2 separate regions of the Homo sapiens genome follow, and region 1 is linked to region 2. Evidence: fine-mapped expression QTL. Tissue or cell type: whole blood. Region 2 holds a variant in brackets; the other region holds the start of a gene. All regions are shown on one strand. Distances are from middle to middle.

Evidence for each region. PIP is the estimated chance that this variant, and not a neighbour inherited with it, causes the effect.
Region 1: it holds the start of ELOA-AS1, and the variant in region 2 is fine-mapped to the expression of ELOA-AS1 in whole blood (TOPMed, PIP above 0.99).

Annotation. Positions count from the first base shown.
Region 1 is chr1:23,776,048-23,780,206 of GRCh38, reverse strand. It overlaps ELOA-AS1 (ELOA antisense RNA 1), which reads left to right and starts at 1,910. Exons shown (of 4, transcript NR_038280.1): 1 at 1,910-2,008. PITHD1 (PITH domain containing 1) reads right to left here and starts at 1,789. Exons shown (of 6, transcript NM_020362.5): 1 at 1,494-1,789; 2 at 726-769; 3 at 266-343. The coding sequence starts at 1,691. RefSeq lists enhancers at 1-859, 2,113-3,065 and silencers at 1,410-1,459, 1,550-1,859.
Region 2 is chr1:23,812,475-23,816,623 of GRCh38, reverse strand. HMGCL (3-hydroxy-3-methylglutaryl-CoA lyase) reads left to right here. Exons shown (of 9, transcript NM_000191.3): 5 at 2,286-2,434. Among named protein-coding and RNA genes, the nearest start is that of HMGCL, 11 kb to the left of the region's middle. The variant C/A (reference allele first, on the strand shown) is at 2,458.

The sequences.
Region 1 (4,159 bases), 36 kb after region 2:
CACAATGCTCTCTGAATGAATCATGTCATAGTAAGCACTTTGAAATATGAGACACGCTGTTGGGCCTAAAGATGCTTAATCTAAAAAAGTCATTAATTCAGGAAGAAATATATGTATTCCAATGCAGAATGAGAACAGGACCAAGATATTTTAAAAGGGGAAATATTAAACCCGGTAAGAAGAAAATGATACTATTCTGGAATAAAATGTTACCAGAAAAAGAGAATTAGGAGCTCCTTTGAGGGCCTAAGCCTTTGCCACTTACAGTCTCATCTCAGAGGGGTGTGAGTCATCATCCTCTCCCATTATAATGATGCCTTTGAGCTTGACATTGCCCGTAAATCTGCCAGAATGCAAAAGAGAAGGTTGTCAAACCTGAGTTTGAATACCTGTTTAGTTGTGTGACCCTGGGCAAGACCCTTCCCCTGTATGGGCTTCAGTTTACTCATCTGTCAACTTGTACTAGATAATTTCTAAGATCCTGTCTACCTCTAGCATTCTACAATTCTAAGAAATCTACCTCAATTTCTCAGTTATTGTTCTACAAATACATCTGTTTCCAGTCTGCACCAAGAAAGCTATGATGCTTTCCTCCTCAAACCCACCAAAGTAATTTATCCCATTTCTAGAAGCAAATGTGTGCTCTTGACACCAGTGAATGAATCCATCTGAGGCAACTGGGTACAGCCTATTTAGCCTGAGGTAGGCACCAAGGAGATACTTACGGAATATTAAACAGAAGCTCTTCATCTGCATCACTTTCAACAAACTGGAGGGGATGGGGAGGGGGGAGGAGAAAGCAACAAATATTTGCTGAGAGCCTACAATTTCAGGCATCTCCCACCCTGCTCTACAACTGGGGTGCAATGGGAAGAGTCACTCTCCCTTGGTTTTCCAAGACTTATTAACTTGAAGCTAACCAGTCTTATCCAGTGTCATAACAGCCACAGGCCACCCAACTGGAAGGTTCTTAACAAAAAGCCCATGAATGAATTTCCAGGGTCGAAGAGCCTTCTGAAGTGTGAACTGAAAGGCAGGTGTTTATGTGCATTTTTCTGAGAAGAAGGTCCACTGCTTTCAAACAGATAGCAAAGGGGCCTGCGACCCCACAATGTAAAGAACATTTGCTCTATATGGGAACCACCTTTCATCTCCCTAGGCTCATCTTCACCAGGTAATATGATGAGGCAGCCATTAGCACCAATGGTCCAACGGCCCTCACGACCATCCTCTCTAGCCCACACAGCCCTGGAATAGAGCGTTAGGCTGTGTAGCTTGACAAAACTGTCCCCGTTCCCTCTAGGCCTCAGTTTCCCTATATGCAAAATGGGGAGACAACGCTGCTCGCCTCCCAAAGAGCTGGCAGGAGACAGGCACGGAAAAGCGCTTGGCAACCAGGCTGTCGTTATTCTTAACATCAGAAATGAGTAGACCGACGGCCCGAGGCCCCACACGCACCCTGCCCCGCCCGCCCCAAGCCCCAGGCGGCCCACCTTGGAGCGGTCGGTCCGCTCCTCCCACGGCTTGAAGACGCCGCGGCCGCTGCCCTCGCGGCTCTCGTTAAGGCATTGCAGCCGCTCCAGGTCGATGCGCAGGTACAGGCCGTAGGCCAGGCCGCGCTGCTCGGGCGGCTCCTCCCGTTCGGCGGCGCAGCGGCAGCCACCCCCGCCGTGGCTGTGACCGTGCGACATGGCAACGCCGCCACCTGCGCGTCCTCTCGGCCCCACCGCCGCGCTCGCTCGGCTCGGCTCGCCTCAGACCAGCTCCGCGCCGTTCAGCTCCGGCAACTAAGCGCGCCGCGCCTGCCGCGTCGTAAAAAGCGCCGCTGCGCGGCGCATGCGCGTGGGGAGAAGGCGGGGGGGCGGGGGGGGTGGGGTCGAGCGGAACTGACGTAGGACGCGCGCCTCCCAGGTGCCAGAGTTCGTATATGACTCCAGTCCTGGCGCTGGATGCTGCTGCTGTTCCAGCTTCCTAGGTGTGGAAACTGAAGGACCAAGAGATTAAACAGGTGTGCTGAGTAAACTCACAGGCTGAGATTCGAATTATCCTCCCCCGACGAGGATGGAGCCTTCGCTGTCTTCCTTGATCGCCACGTTTCTTTGCGAGCCGATGAAGGAAAGCGTGAGGAATGATAAGGCCCTGGAGACTGGAGAACGCGAGCTTATCGCTGTCTCACATGCGCACGGCTTAGACGTTGAGAGCTCACAGGCCCACTTGCATAACCACTTTCTTGATAGCGGGGTTACAGCTTGAGAGCATGGGGCTTTGTGCACGGCCAGACCTAAAGACTACTCCTGGGTCTGCTACTGGCCATTGTGACACCTTAAGTCATTTCCCCTATTCTGAGACTCCGTTTCCCCGTCTGTAAGGTGGAAAGAATAGTATCTGTTTCATAGGATCACAGTGAGTATTAAATGAAATAATGCAATTAAAGAACTCAGCAGGCCGGGCGCGGTGGCTCACGCCTGTAATCCCAGCACTTTGGGAGGCCGAGGCGGGCGGATCACGAGGTCAAAAGATCGAGACCATCCTAGCCAACATGATGAAACCCCGTCTCTACTAAAAATACAAAAATTAGCTAGGCGTGGTGGCGCGAGCCTGTAGTCCCAGCTACTCGGGAGGCTGAAGCAGGAGAATCGCTTGAACCCGGGAGGCAGAGGTTGCAGTGAGCCGACATCGCGCCACTGCACTCCAGCCTGGCGACAGAGCAAGACTCTGTCTCAAAAAGAAAAAAAAAGAAAAAACTCAGCAAATGGCTGACACATGATGGGCATTCAGTAGCCGATGGTTATTACGGTCAAATCCAACCACAGCAACTTACTAGCTGCGTGGCCTTGGGCAAGTGACTTGATCTTCTGAGACTCAGTTTACCCCCTGTGAAGTGAAGGGATTGGACTAGATGATCTCTGCGTTTCCTCCCCCATGTGATATTTCAAAGTACTTTTTTTCGAACAGCTGGTTGTGGCCTGTCAATAGGTTTTAAAATCCGTTTATAGAGAATTGTGATCAACATTTAAAAAAAAAATAGAATACAAAAAAAAAAAAACCCAGAATGTATCACACATTTCAAGTCTCAATTGATGAAACTTTTGTTTCAGTTTTGAGTTTGTATTCAGACACAATATGATGTGTTTTTCATATTGTGGGTTGAGATCAAAATAATTAAAAGTCACTGTTTAGAGGTGAAATAATCTTGTTTTCAGGATAGAATGTTTTCCTACTCCCTGGTGGGGAAAAGACAGGATACAGAAAGAGAGTTATGGGATACCCTGGCTACCCTCTTCCCTTCACATCTGGCTCTGGAGTGCTCAGTGGGGCTGGTGAAGTATAGACCAAAATATCCATTTTTTCAAGTTCCATTCAGAAATATTTTCTGGGCCACATGCAGTGCCTCATGCCTGTAATCTCAGCACTTTTGGGAGGCCAAGGTGGGAGGATCACTTGAGCCCAGGAGTTTGAGACTAGCCTGGGCAACATAGGGAGACCCCATCTTTACAAAAATAATTAAAAATATTAGCCCAGCATGGTGGCTCATGCCTGTGGTCCCAGCTATTTGGGAGGCTGAAGTGGAAGGATCTCCTGAGCCTGGGAGGGTGAGGCTGTAGTGAGCTGTAATCATACCACTGCACTCCAACCTGGGTGTCAGAGCAAGACTGTCTCAAAAAAATAAAAACAAGAAAAATATTTTGATGTCCTATTTTAGTTACTTGTGCAATAAGCAAGCTTGGTTCTGTTTCAAAATAGCTCAGTGCCGTGAATTATTCCTGCTTTTAGGTCACAGTTTCAGGTAAGGGACCTGGAATGTGGCAAACAGTAAATGTTTACTTGACTGATATACTTGGTAGCCTTTCTTTGGTAAGAGTGTCCTTTTGAAGAACCAACTCAGGCCTTACCCCGGAGATCTACTCATTTTGGCTTTTTCCTGTTGCCTTCATTAATGATTTATTTGAGCACTGTGTGCTAAGCACATTATGTAGTTCATCTCAATTAATTGTCACATGAACTTTAAGAGCTAGGTACAGCCAGGTGTGGTGGCTCACACCTGTAACACTTTGGGAGGCCGAGGCGGGTAGATCACTTGAGGTCAGGAGTTTGAGACCAGCCTGGCCAGCATGGTGAAACCCCGTCTCTACTAAAAATAGAAAAATTAGCCAGGCAT
Region 2 (4,149 bases):
GGTCCCTGCCTTGTCTTGGCGCCTCAGTCCCCTGTCCTGGGATGTCCATCTGAATAGCTTGTCTGTCAGCCAGACCCTGGGGCAAACCTGGCCCTGCCACTCACTGCTCTGTGATCTTGACAAGTTGACAAGCCTATAAAATAGGGCTAAATGATAGTACCTGAAGTTGTGAGCATTTCAGAAGATAGGATGCATGTACATTGCTTAGCAAGAGCCAGATAAAAGGTAACTGCTTAATAAATGTTAGCTCTTTTGATTATCCACTTCTTTAGAGAAATGTAACCAAACTCTCCACAAGAGTTTCAACAGTAGTTGCTGGCATCTGCCAACTTTCTTACAATTTTAGACAAGAACATCTTTGGAGGCGTTGGTTCTGTATTTAGGCAAAAACCTTTTTTTGGCTGGGCACAGTGGCTCACACCTATAATCCCAGCACTTTGGGAGGCTGAGGCCGGAGAACAGCTTGAGGCCAGAAGCTTGAGACCAGCCTGAGCAACATAAGGAGACCTTGTCTCTACAAAAAAAAAAAAAAAAATCAATTAGCTGGCTGTGATGGCATGCACCTGTAGTCCTAGCTACTCGGGAGACTGAGGCACAGGATGGCTTGAGACTAGGAGTTCGAGGCTGCAGTGAGCCATGATAATACCGCTGCACTCTTCCAGCCTGGGTGACACAGCAAGAAAAAAAAAAAAGCTTTTTCTCAAGAGTGACTTCCAGGGTGGTGATGGCAGTGGTGGTGGTTTCCTTGGGGAAAATCAAAGTTTTTTTTTTTTTAATTAAGAGAAATTACTGTGTTTGTTTCCTAGTGCTACTGTAAGAAAGCACTACAGGCCGGGCGCGGTGGCTCACGCCTGTAATCCTAGCACTTTGGGAGACCAGGGCGGGCGGATCATGAGGTCAGGAGATCGAGACCATCCTGGCTAACACGATGAAACCCCGTCTCTACTAAAAATACAAAAAATTAGCCAGGCTTGGTGGCAGGTACCTGTAATCCTAGCTACTCAGGAGGCTGAGGCAGGAGAATCACTTGAACCCGGAAGGCGGAGGTTGCAGTGAGCCAAGATCATGCCACTGCATTCCAGCCTGGGTGACAGAGCAAGACTTTGTCTCAAAAAAAGAAAAAAGAAAAAAAAAAAGAAAGCACTACAAATTGGGTGGCTTAAAAACAACAGAAATTTATTCTCTCACAGTCTGGAGGCCAGAAGTCCCAAATCAAGGTGTCAGCAGGATTGGTTCCTTCTGAGGCCTCTGGGAGAATCTGTCCTATGCCTCTCTGCTGGGGTCTGGTGGTGGCCAGCAGTCCTTGGCATTGCCTGGCTTGTAGATGCATCTCTCCAGTCTTTGCCTCCGTTTTCCCAGGGCCACCTTTTCTGTGTCTCTGTGTCTTCACTTGGCCATCTTTTGTTTTTGTTTTTTTTAGACAGAGTCTTGCTCTGTCGCCCAGGCTGGAGTACAGTGGCATGATCTCGGCTCACTGCAAGCTCCACCTCCCAGGTTCAAGTGATTCTCCCACCTCAGCCTCCCGAGTAGCTGGGACTACAGGCGTGTGCCACCACGACCGGCTAATTTTTTGTATTTTTAGTAGAGATGGGGTTTCACTGTGTTAGCCAGGATGGTCTCGATCTCCTGACCTCATGATCTGCCCGCCTCGGCCTCCCAAAGTGCTGTGATTACAAGCGTGAGCCACTGCGCCCGGCTGGCCATCTTTTTTTAAGGTCACCAGTCGTATGGGATTAGGGGCCCACCCTATTCCAGTATGGCTTCATCTTAACTAATGATATCTGCAATGACGCTGTTTCCAAATAAGGTCACATTCTGAGGTGCTGGGTTTTAATCCTTCAACATATATTTTTAGGAGGACACAATTCAACCCATAACATTCACATAACATAAAATTTACCTTAAGAGAAATTTTTTGCTACTCTGTGTCAGTGTTCTTTAAAGAGAAAAGTGCTGGCCGGGCATGATGGCTGACACCTGTAATCTCAGCACTTTGGGAGGCTGAGGTGGGTGGATCACAAGGTCAGGAGTTCGAAACCAGCCTGACCAACATGGTGAAACGCTGTCTCTACTAAAAATACAAAAATTAGCCGGGCGTGGTGGTGGGCTCCTGTAATCCCAGCTACTCAGGAGGCTGAGGCAGGAGAATCGCTTGAACCCAGGAGGTGGAGGTTGCAGTGAGCCGAGATCATGCCACTGCACTCCAGCCTGGGCAACAAAGCAAGACTCCATCTCAAACAAAAAAAGAGAAAAGTGCTGAAAGGAGTTCACCTGGATGTTGGCAGGTTGCTGCTGGAGCCAAGGAAGTAGTCATCTTTGGAGCTGCCTCAGAGCTCTTCACCAAGAAGAACATCAATTGTTCCATAGAGGAGAGTTTTCAGAGGTTTGACGCAATCCTGAAGGCAGCGCAGTCAGCCAATATTTCTGTGCGGGGGTGAGTCAGAGCACATTGGTATC[C/A]TTTCCTCTGTACCGTTCTGGAATGGGGCTAGACTCTGACTCAAGTGGTCCTCCTGCCACAAACTTCTTATCCTGGGTGGGGGCAGCCTGAGCTCCACACCTAGACATCTTTTCCCAAATAAGTGTGGTCAGAAGAAATCCTAGGAAGTACTTTCTCTCAAACCTGAATTTTGGGTCAGTTTACCAGCTAGCCATGATAGCATGCGCCTGTAGTCCTAGCAACTTGGGAGACTGAGGCAGAGGATGGCTTGAGACCAGGAGTTTGAGGCTGCAGTGAGCCATGATAGCACCACTGCTATCATGCTAAAGGAATCTAGCAGGACAGGACACTAACGGGTTTGTGGAGGTCAGTTGAGTCCTGGCTTTATCACTAGCTCTTCACACATCCCTGGAGAATTACCTAGGCTTCTATGTTTCCAACATCACATCTCTAATATCAGTGGTTCCAGGCATTGTGTGTGTATTATCTATAATAATTGAAACCTCACAATAGCCCAGCAGGGAGTAGGTTATCCTCACTTTATAAATTACAAAACCGAGGCCCAGGAAGGGCGAATACTCTACTGTAAGGTCACACTGCTGTGCAAATTGCAGCCAGAGGCCGGGCATGGTGGCTCACACCTGTAATCCCAGCACTTTGGGAGGACAAGGCAGGTGGATCACCTGAGGTCAAGAGTTCAAGACCAGCCTGGCCGACATGGTGAAACCCCATCTCTACTAAAAATACAAAAATTAGCTGGGCGTGGTAGTGGATAGAAACCCCGTCTTTACTAAAAATACAAAAATTAGCTGTAATTCCATCTACTTGGGAGGCTGAGGCAGGAGAATCACTTGAATCTGGGAGGCGGAGGTTGTGGTGAGCCGAGATCACACCACTGTACTCCGGCCTGGGTGACAGAGCAAAACTCCATCTCAAAAAAAAAAAAAAAAAAAAAAAAACATTGCAGCCAGAATGATCGTTGAAAAGTGCACATCTGGGCTGAACATGGTGGCTCATGCCTGTAATCCCAGCACTTTGGGAGGCCGAGGCGGGCAGATCACCTGAGGTAAGGAGTTTGAAACCAGCCTGGCCAACATGGGGAAACCCCATCTCTACTAAAAATACAAAAATTAGCCGGGCGTAGTGGCATGCACCTGTAATCCCAGCTACTCAGGAGGCTGAGGCGGGAGAATCACTTGAACCCAGGAGGCAGAGGTTGCAGTGAGCCAAGATCACGCCACTGCACTCCAGCCTAGGTGACAGAGTGAGACTCTGTCTCAAAAACAAAAACCAAAAAAACCCCACAAAAGTGCACATCTGATCACATCCCTCCTGGTTAAAAAGCTTTCAGTGACTAATCAAGTGCAGACTTTTTAATGAGGTTTACAAACCCTGCATGATTTGGTCCCGGCTCTTTTCTGTAGCCGTACCGTTCAAGTTCCCTTCTGGCCCCTGCTTCCTCTTCATGGTACACTCCAGCCCAACTGGAACTTCTTTCTGTTTGTCACATGCCTCCACTCTTGCCTCTGGGCCTTTGCACGTGCTCTCTCTAGACTCAGAACAACCTTCCTTGGGAGGCCAAGGTGGGCAGGTTGCTTCAGCCCAGGAGTTTGTGACTGGCTTGGGCCTGGGCAACATGGTGAAACCCCAGCTCTACAAAAAAAAAGCCAGGTGTGGTTGCATGTGCCTGTAGTCCCAGCTACTCAGGAGGC